Homo sapiens: one gene and its partners. The protein of the gene in region 2 purifies or fractionates together with the protein of the main gene of each other region. This does not show direct contact. Each region holds a gene or a part of one and is shown on either strand. Other genes may lie near its edges.

Evidence for each region.
Region 1: the proteins of TSPAN12 (region 2) and TMEM59 purify together in Homo sapiens (co-immunoprecipitation; one study listed by IntAct). This does not show direct contact.
Region 3: the proteins of TSPAN12 (region 2) and TNFRSF10B purify together in Homo sapiens (co-immunoprecipitation; one study listed by IntAct). This does not show direct contact.

Annotation. Positions count from the first base shown.
Region 1 is NC_000001.11:54,046,705-54,050,204, forward strand, and holds part of TMEM59 (transmembrane protein 59 isoform 2 precursor), read right to left. Parts: intron 669-3,500; coding exon 563-668; intron 1-562.
Region 2 is NC_000007.14:120,837,538-120,841,273, forward strand, and holds part of TSPAN12 (tetraspanin-12), read right to left. Parts: intron 2,573-3,736; coding exon 2,490-2,572; intron 1,376-2,489; coding exon 1,240-1,375; intron 1-1,239. UniProt on the Homo sapiens protein: Regulator of cell surface receptor signal transduction. Plays a central role in retinal vascularization by regulating norrin (NDP) signal transduction.
Region 3 is NC_000008.11:23,062,459-23,066,194, forward strand, and holds part of TNFRSF10B (tumor necrosis factor receptor superfamily member 10B isoform 1 precursor), read right to left. Parts: intron 1-3,736. UniProt on the Homo sapiens protein: Receptor for the cytotoxic ligand TNFSF10/TRAIL. The adapter molecule FADD recruits caspase-8 to the activated receptor.

The DNA of each region.
Region 1 (3,500 bases), on a different chromosome or scaffold from region 2:
ATATTCCATTATAGTTATTTAAAAAGTTAAACGTCAATTGTGTCCTGATTATAGGTTTCTTTTGTTAAACATATTGCTTTCAGCAAAAAGAAAGAAAAGTGGTTTAACAGATGACAAAGCCTCTGGCTACTTATTTTAATGGCCTGACCAATGAATAATATGCTATTAAATACTGAGTCAAAGGCCTGATTCAGTAAAAAACTTGGAGATAAGTCGATGAACTTATGATTGAAAGGTTTAGGAAAATTATACTATCTGTGAAAAGGTAGTAATGAATTGTGAGTAGGGTAATTATACTGCATTTGTCTGACAGAATGCTTGGTTAAACAAAGGTGTCCTATTCATAGCAGAAAATAAACACTGTCTCAACAAACAGATGAAATTTAAAGCCCATGAAATTTCTAGCAGCAGCTACGAAAACTCTTAGATCCATAATAATTACAATATGTTAGATGACTAGTTTCAACAGTGTGTTTTCCATTTCCTAAAGAAAATACTTCAAAAGCTTATCACAAAGAAAACAATGTTACATACAGCTGATGTCGTTAGCATAGCATCTTACCAGATTCACATTCCAATTTAGTTCGATTTAAGTCAATTCCATCATCCACAAACTGACAAATTGAAAACAGCCTGCAACCTCTCTGACATGCGTACAACTCCTCTTCCTAGGGAGTTCAAGAACAGGAAGGGTTACCAAAAAATAGTATTTTTTTTTCCTCAGGGGAAAACAGGTTAGGAAGAAAGCAGTTAGTAAAGTTTATTACAAATCGTCCAGTAAGTTTCATAACTGAAAGAAAAAAATGATAGGAGCCAGTTGATACTCAAGACCTTTGCCATATAGAGGTTTTAGTTCCTTATTTTAAAAGTGATACGAAGAAAAAAGCCTAGTAGGTAAAACCACCACCCTTTTTCCATTTTCTTTGGTTACAATCTGTGGGGGGGAAAAATTAAAAATAAAACTAATAGTGACAGGCCAGGTGCAGTGGCTCACACCTGTAATCCCAGGGCTTTGGGAAGCTGAGGTGGGAGGACTGCTTGAGGCCAACAGTTTGAGGCCAGCCTGGACTATATAGCGAGACCCCATCTGTACCAAAACAAACACACACACAAAAATAACTGGGTATGGTAGTGCACACTTGTTGTCCTAGTACTCAGTAGGCTGAGGTGTGAGGATTGTTTGAGCCCAGGAGTTTGAGGGTACAGTGAGCTATAATCACACCACTGTACTCCAGCTTGGGGTACAAAGTGAGACCCTGTTGCTTAAAAAACAACAACAACAAAAAACACAACGGTGATATAACTAGAACTTTAACAGCGATAGGAGTAAGCAAGTACCCTAGGACCAATGGCATACTTCTGCCACATCCCTGTTTATATGAATCACCAGGCTTATCAGGAAAAGTATCAGACTAGCTTCACATGGCAAATGGTGACACAAGGGCCTGATAAAGTAAGGTATACATCTATAAAAATGTTTATATGAAGGGATTTTTTAAAACTGGGCTTACATTAAATGAAAACACAGGAGCAACAGTGTGGTGTATGGGAAAGGACACTGCAATCAGCCAGACCTAGATCAAACCTTTTGGGTGAGTGCATAAGTTATTTTACCTGTCTAAGAATCTCAGCTTTCTCATCAAAAAAGGAGAGAACAGCCATTATCTCCAAATTCCTCAATAATTTGGAAGCTATTTCCAGTATAGTGCCTGGGATGTAGAAGGTGCTTAATAAATGGTAATAGTGTTAATAGATTTTTAAAATAGAAAACAATTACAGGCATCAATGTATACGTGTGAAAGCTTAAGACAGGATGGACATCTGGTTCTTCATTACTGTAAAATATTAACTGCTTAATAAGACTAATGTCTTCAGCTGTTTTTCTTTGATAAAATAAAAGTATTTAAAAAAAGCTATTGCATATGGGGGAGCCCCCTCGACTTACTATGTGATCCACTGTGTACAAACTGGCAGACACCTAATAAGGAAACAGCATGTGCATATACCAGTTAGCAACCAATGAAATACAAGCTATGTATTTCTTTCCAGCAAAAGGATTAGTAAAATTTACGCAGCAGCAACAATCCATCAAGAAGAGATGCCTGCAGTCTAATATTAAATATACTTTATCATACAACTTTGAAGGTAGCACACTTTTGGACCTCAGTTCCAACTGCATTTACTGTTAAGATGAAATTGAAAGAATTTTAACAATTGAGATAGATTTCATATCTGAGTAGCTGTTGCAGGCTTTGTAAAACAGTTAAAGAATTATTTTATGTCTCTGGAGCACCACATATTTCCTTATATTGCACAAAGGAAGCATAAGCTCATTAGTATGAGCTATACCACATGCCATTTCATTCTCAGATATGCTTTCCTTTAATAAGTCATCCAGTACCAATTTCGGAAAACCATATGGCATGGTGAAAAGAGCCGAGGTTTCAGGAATCGGCCCTGGTTTGAAGCTCAGACTTGCCACTTATTCTGCACAACCTTTGACAAGTTACTTAATCTAATTCCTCAGTTGTAAAATAAGGACAATACTCTTACATCAATCCTAACTACTATTCATTTATTTTCTACTGCCTGTATAATTGCAGAGTGTCAATCTTCACTATTAGGAGAATTATATATTTATATCTACAATAGCATTACTACTATGTAGTACTATCTAATAGACAGACATATTTAATGAGCATCCACAATGTGCCAGGCACTGTATTAAGACTTAACAAATTATGAAACATCTGGTATGGAGCAGGCACTCAACTGGTAGCTATCAAGAATCATATCTTTATTCTAAGTATTTCATGTTATATATACAAAAATAATGATTTCAAGTAAATATTTCATGCCCTATGTATCCCAAATGACTGGCAAGTTTATATAACATGTATCTCCTCTGATTTAGGACACAATAAATAGTGCTTCCACCATATGAAATACCAGCTAAATTCATAATTAGAAGGTCCCTCAATGGTACTATTTAGGCCAGGCACCGTGGCTCATGCATGTAATCCCGACACTTTGGGAGGTCAAGACATAAGGACCCATTCAGCCCAGGAGTTTGAGACCAGCCTAGGCAACACAGCAAGACCCTGTTTCAATTATTTTAAATTAAAAAATAAATAAATAGAAGTTAAGTGATCAGCAAGGACAAACAGTAATCAAGGAGCTGGGAATAAAACCAGGTCTGTATGGTTCTAGAGACCACACTCCATTAAAAAATGACCAGGCTGGCTCTAATTAGCTTTTTTATTAACATGATTTATGTCTCTTGTTTTTTCGACCGAGATAAATTATGCAATTGCACTTCTGTAGATAAAACATAGAATAATTTAAAAATAACTATTTACAAACAGGTATTCTACTTTCTTGCAACAAATAATTAGTTCTCAAAAAGTGTCTGAGATTTCTTTTTTTTTTTTCTTTTTTTGAGATGCAGTCTTGCTCTGTCCCCCAGGCTGGAGTGCAGTGGCACAATCTTGGCTCACTGC
Region 2 (3,736 bases):
TCTTGACCTCGTGATCTGCCTGCCTCGGCCTCCCAAAGTGCTGGGATTACAGGCGTGAGCCACCTTGCCCGGCCTGAGTGTGCTTTATTTTCTATAGCATTTTGTGTTTTTCAATATTCGACCTGAACAGTTACCCTCCAAGAAGCTAAGTAATACATTAACACAGGTTATACTGTGAAATTCAAAGCTTTAGTTCAACTTCACACTAAGATTCTGTTTTAATTGACTTGGCATGGGAGCCAGTCAAGCACGAGTGTGTGGGAGCTGGCTCCTTGAGCCAATTTGTACTCATCTGTCCCCAGTTCCACATTCAGTGATTTCATGTTGGTAACTTAAAATTGACCATGCTGGGAGAATTTACCCCACGGAAATCCCCAAATGCTACAAATCTGAGCTTTTTTTCTGCCCAGTGATCCAGCTTACCAGCACACCACTCAAATTGTTTAAGTTCTTTATATGAAATTAATACACAGCCAGGGCTGAGACCTACTATAAAAAAAGCGTATACTCAATGAATTAATTTTTCAGCCTTATATGTCTGCAACTATATGTTAGTAATCTCATTACCTGGTGCCACTAGTATATATTTTGCACATTAAGTGCTCTTCTAAAAATATCTATATAAACAGTATTTTAATCAACTCAATTTTTTAATGTTAAAAATGTTTGCCTACTTTTGAATTAAAAGACTAGTCACAGAATTTGAATGGTGAAACTAATTTAAAAAGTACCTAGTGCAACTCTCAGAGTTAAAAAAACAACAACCAAGATTATAGAAACTGAGACTCGCTTATGTTCTCTAAACTATATAAAGGCAGTGACAGGACCATTACATACGTCTGCTACCTCACAACCTGAATTTCCATAGGAGCTTACAGGGTGGATTTGTTTAAAAATAGAAGAGAAAGAAACAGTTCCTTTATGGCTTCTCAGTTCCAGTCCCAAGGGGCCTTTTTGAGTGCTAATAACTACAAGGACACTAGAAAGAACTCATACTTTCAAATGAAAATGTCAACACGTAGCTGGAGTGAAATAATTAAATTGCTTATATATATTTCCATACCTCATCCGGTACAGCAAATATGTGTATTCAAATAATCTCTTGTGAAACGAAAGCGTCCCTTCTTACAGGATGTTGTTACTGCTATCACTGCTCCCTAATCTTGTGAACTGATTAAAAAATAATATATTACTGGTTAATCTTTTTAACTATAATAAAGAGAAAATATAACATCATACCCATGCAAGAAGCAACAGATTTCTTTTCACCGTTCCACAATATCCTAACATCCCCACAATGATAAGGAAACAGCAAACAGCAATCATGACCGGATGAACCACAGGAAAGTAAGTCAAAATGACTGCTTCCTCTACCCTGAAAGAAGAAAAATAATGTATTAGAAAGAAAATATAATCAAAATGCACCCAAGACATAGCAGAAGACACAACTGTGATTTGTGTTAATAATTCTTTCAATCATGATGCCTCAAAACTAGTGACTGCATTGTTATTTTCAAAATCACTGTGCTATTGTTTTTATGTTTATTTGCTCGGTTGCTTTATTTTTGGTTTTGCAGTGTTTGTTTTTTTTAATACAAGTGGTAGCTTTCCTACCCCAACTCATTTAACATATAATATACAGGACCTTGATAAAAGGTCCATCTATTATTATCTCCGAAGCCTTAGCCTAAGTAAATCACATGGGAGCCTTTGCTATTTCCCAGCTGGGAGGAATCTCCTTCCTCTTCTCTAATTTTTGATCCCATGTGCACTACGTTTCTTCTCCCTGACAATTGATCCTCCCCCAAAATGTAAAAGACTGCTATGCAAAGGAAAATCAATCTACATTTAAAGAAAGGAATAGGTAGAAATGATTTTTGCTAGAACACGATGAAAAATTCATTAACCGAAACCAGTATTAATGATAAAAATTAACCATTATTAAGCTAACTTTCCCTGTGTTAAGGACTTGAAAAAAATGGTTTTCATTTAATCCTTACCACAATTCAGATGTCATATAATACAATCTCCATTCAGAGATGATGGAGTAAAAAGTAATTTGTCCCCTGTGATGTTAGTAGATTAACCCTTGAAATTTGAGAAAAAAAAATCATTGTGGTGTATGGTTTTCATTAACCCAAGAATATGAAGGTAAGAGGAAGCTGACGGTAATTTTCTTAGGGAAAAGTAACTATGCTGGTTCTTTACACGCACCTATGACATGGCTGATGCACAATCAGGAGGACAGGCAACTGCTATTACCATACCCAGAAATGTCTGTATAAACATGCTGCCACCTGATCCCCTGCTAGGACCAGAGGCGCACCTTAAGGAGAATTCTGGAGGATGCAAGTGTCTGTGACAAAGGTTGCTATGGGCAGGAAAAACTTTTCCAAAAGATCAAGGAAGAGCACTACCATATAAATAGCTGAGGGCAAAGTTACTTAAAATCAGCAAGAAAGAATTCAATCAATAATTATAAAGTATACCTCGTTTCTGCAGTTAAAGTGAGAACATTATTTAGGTAGTCCCTCATCCAAGCAGAAACTGCCAACACACTGATGGACATTAACTGGGGAGAAAAAAGTACAAACCGGTTACCAAAGATTTACGTAACATTCACTGCAGGATTAATAATAGGAAAATTAAGGATTTTGTTACATAATATCTTTCCCAATTACCATTTGCTGCATCTTGAAATTTACTATTACTATAAATAACTGCCATTCCATTTTGTAATCATGTCCTAGGCACCAAATGGAATACCACCCAAATGGGATACAGAAAACAAAACTATTAAGTGGCTGATCCCAGGTTCAGGACAGAAACTGCACAAGATAAGGAGGCCACAGAACAAATAAATTATCAAACATATAAGATGTGTCTAAAACACATTGTCATTCTTAAAGGCAAGGAAGCAATTAAATACTATTACTGAACAATTAAATATTGTCAAAAAAAGTCACAAGTTAATTTAAAACGACTTCTATTGGCTAAAATTCAAATAATTTAAGCATTAAAATGATAGTAATAGTAATAACATTAAATGTAATCCTTTGATTCATAAAGCGCTAAAGTATATAAACTCATACACATATATGTGCTAAAGTATATAAACTCATAATGAACAAAATTCTCTGGTCTTTGTAGAAAGTTGAATACTCAACTCATTATTCAGAAAACTGACAAGAATCTATCATTTCTCTTTATCCTACTTTTCCTGTACAAACTAAAGGAAGAACAAAGGACTTGATTAAACTTTTTATGGAAGAATTTCTGTAATATTTGCAGGAAGCATTCTAGAGCATCACCATTTAACAACCTTTTCTCAAATAATGGATCTCTAGAAAAAAGATCCTCAATGGCTGCAATTTTATCAGGTCATTGGTTCTCAATCCTGTCTGTACATTTGAATCATTTAAGGCTCAAAAAAATTACTGAACACAGGTTTATCCTGGACTAATTCTAGGGAGTAGGGCTTGGGCATCAGAAATGTGTAGCAACTTCACAGATTCTAACAGGCAGACAGGGCTGAGAACCACTGCATTAAATGAAAGGCTGGTGGGAAGTCAGAATAGAGAAAGTAGGCAGATGATCCAGACCACACTGGTCACTCCTAGTGTCACAAAAAGAGACAATTACACATAATGTGTCTCCCAACATGGTACGGTCAGAAGCACACAGAAATTCCTATGAAGTATTTTCACCAGAAGGTCAAACTTGAATCAAATCAATC
Region 3 (3,736 bases), on a different chromosome or scaffold from region 2:
CCTCCTGTCTTGGCCTCGCAAAGTGCTGGGATTATAGGCGTGAGCCATCACATCCGGCCTCTACTGTTTTTCTATTCTCTGTTTTATTTATTTCTCTTCTAATAATTATTTCCTTTATAATGCTAACTCTAGGTTTGGTTCATTCTTTTTCTAATTCCTACATTTGTAAACTTAGCTCGTTGATTTAAGATCCTTCTTCTTTTTTAATTAAACCATTTCTGGCTATAAATATCATAGATGGAATCAGATACTATATATGCTTTTCTGTCTGGTTTCTTTAACTCAGCATAATTATTTTGAAATTCGGTCATATTTTCATATGCATCAGTACTCCATTCCTTTTCATTACTGAGTTGTATGGCAGAATTAATATGGTAATATTATAAAATGTAGGAGACTTGAAATAATACAGATTGATTCATCTCCACTACTCATTCTTTCTGCTATAGTTGTCTCAGGCATGTTCATATGTTACAAACCCTACAAAGTGTTATATTACTTGATAGTGAATATTTTCAAGAAATTAAGAGGAAATAATCATTCTTTATATGTGCATTCATATTTCTATTCCTGATGATCTTCCTTCTTTCCTTAAGATCCATGTTCCCAGCCAGGCAAGGTGGCTCATGCCTGTAATCCCAGCACTTTGGGAGGCCAAGGCGGTGGATCTCCTGAGGTCAGTAGTTTGAGACTGGCCTGGCCAACATGGTGAAACCCGGTCTCTACTAAAAATACAAAAATTAGCTGGGTGTGGTGGCAAGCGCCTGTAATCCCAGCTGTTCAGGAGGCTGAGGCAGGAGAATCGCTTGAACCCAGGAGGCAGAGGTTGCAGTGAGCCGAGATTGCGCCATTGCACTCCAGCCTGGGCAGCAACAGTGAAACTGTCTCAAAAAAAAAAAAAAAAATCCATGTTTCCATTTCATTTCATCTCTATTCAGATTGAAATCTTTTAGCATTTTGTGTACTGCAGGTCTATGAGCAATGACGTGCCCATACTGTCTCCAATAGCACATTCAGGTTCCTAATTCTTAAAGCCATTTATGCCCATTTACTCTTTCTTATTTGGTAATGACCTCACCCAAGTCTCAGATTAGAAACACTAGAATCCACCACAAACCTCTTTCCTCTTCTTACCAAACCCATTGCATCACCGGCCTGCGTTATCATCATTTCCCTCAGATCTGCCTCAGCTGCCACTTGCCTCCTTCACGATAATGCAACCTGACCCTCACCCTAACCACTAGGACCCATCCCGAATGCTGTCCAGGCCACACCTGAGTGCACCCACCTAGTCCACTCTCCACTGGGTGAACAATGATCTTTAATGGGTGGATCTGATGAGGGATGTCCCCGGGGAAAACTTGACAATGGCCTTGGTGACTCTGGACTTGGGTGATCCTCCGTACTCTATTCAGATCCTCTGTTCTGTCCTCAGCCTGCCTGCCACACTCCCCACCTCTCACGTTTAACACACTCTATGAGCAGGCTGAGGACACAACGTCTGGGTTAGTGCAGCTTCCTAGAATCCACGTTACTCATTCATTCATTCATGGAAGGCATGTAGGCGCCTGGCGACCGCATATGCAAGGAGCCGTGGAGTATCGGGAACATGGCACGGCCCTTCCTTTCCTTAGCACAGTTTCCATTCACAGGAGCTGAGGCACAGCCATCATTAACCCCAAAGTCCATGAACTTGCAAAGAGTCTGGAGGGGCTGCCCAGGCAGAGGTGACAAATGCCATCGGTGGCAGGGACAGTAGTGGACATAGAGGAAAGAGTGCACACAGACAGAATCCCAGACAGACAGGAATCCAGTGTAATGGGGGAGGGGAGTAAAAACAAGAGAGGTACTGCTGAATTAATATTGTAATATGATTACAAAATGTAGGAGAGTTGAAATAATATAGATCCATTCATCACCATTCACTCTTTCTGCTGTGCAGGACGAGGCTGTGCCGTCCGTGGGCCTCTCTGATTGAGGGAGAATGGGCGTGTGGCCAGAGATGCACAGCTGTGTTGGGCCACAGAAATGGGCTCATGGGGGTGTCCATGGGCATGGTTAAGAGAGAGAAGGAAAACAAGAAGAAGGGAGGTCAGGGGTTTGGCTTATTTCAGTTCTTGTCCCATTGAATTCTAGGGACCCTGCCTCCTCCCGGACATGAGCCATTGGCGGGGTTTCCCTGTCTTGTGACTCACCCACCTGTGATTCAGGCTCCTTGCTTTACACCAAGTTTGAGCATAAAACCTGCTAATATTTCTCGTCAAAAATTAACCCGAGTAACCTCTTCTTTCCTCTCTGAGTCACCCACATCCTTAAAACTGCCCAGGATAATCACAGTTCCTGCATAGGTTGTTGTGTGAACTGAAAGTGTTAATATGTATGGAAAGTGCTTAAAACACAGAACTTTAAACACATGCTCTGATTAGTACGATCATTACCCTCAATGTTGATTTTAAGCAAACCATATTATCCTGGCCAAACTACCATGACCTGGAGCCTTGGGACTGCACAGCCTCCCTCTGTCAGTCAAATATGGAGGGATGACATCTCTGGAGCCAGCACAGCCACTCTGGAGGTGGGGGAGGTGACAGTGGTGGGACCTCATGCTTCCTGATAGTTATTTAGGTCCCTGCTGTCACCTGCTCCACCAGACTGTGGGCTCCAGGGAGTAGTCAGTATTCACACAGGGCTCATTTGTCCTTCCCCAACCCAGGCACAGATTTTCCCAGAGTAAAGGGTTCCTCCTCTACCTGATGAATGAATCACTCCTGTCCCCGCCGCCAAGCACATGCAGTGAGACTAGCTGTGGCCTCAGCTCACTGCGTAAGGACAGCCTCCAGCTACAGCAGGGGCAGAGGACCCTGTAGAGCTCTGTAGTCTCTGTTGAGAACCACAGGCAGGAACTCCCAGAGGCCAAGTGCAGGGCAGAGACTGGGAGAAGCAGCTGCCTGGAGGACTCTGGATCCTTGCAGAAGACATGTCCAGTGTCTGCTGAGACTGACTCTAGGTGCCTGAGAAGAAGCCACCCAGGGAAGGAGAGACTAGATTGTGGACCACTCAGGGCTGGGAGATCTGCATGTTCCCCTTCCCACAGTGGACAGAACGCATGCCAGGGTGCTGGCGAGTTACCATCAGAAGTCAACCACTATAACTTTAGTAGTTAACTAAATGAGCCCCTGAATAAGGCAACTGAACACAAGGTATATAGTTATATGTAGATAAAAGCTAGTATCAGAGGAGCAAACTGATCCTCAGTTTTCTGTGACCAGAATAATGCCCAATAGACTTTGAAAGAACACAGTGATGTTCGGTACCCAAGAAAGCAAAATTCACAATGTCAAGCAATAAGAAATTACTATGCATGAAAAAAAAAGTCCCTATGGGCAGGAAAAAAAATGTAATCAACAGAAACAGTGGCCGTAATAACAGATATAATGGTGTTGATAGATTAAATAACTTAAAACAGGTCATCTAAAGCTTACAAATATACTCAAGAATATTTAAAAAACAGAAAAACAAAAAACACCACCACCAAAATCATAGGTTGCGCACGGTGGCTCAGGCCTGTAATCCCAATACTTTGGGAGGACAAGGTGGGAGGATTCCTTGAGCGCAGGAGTTTGAGACCAGCCTGGGCAACATGGTGAAACCCCGTCTCTACTAAAAATACAAAAATTAGCCAGGTGTGGTTGCAAGTGCCTGTGGTCCCAGCTACTTGGGAGGCCGAGGTGGGAGG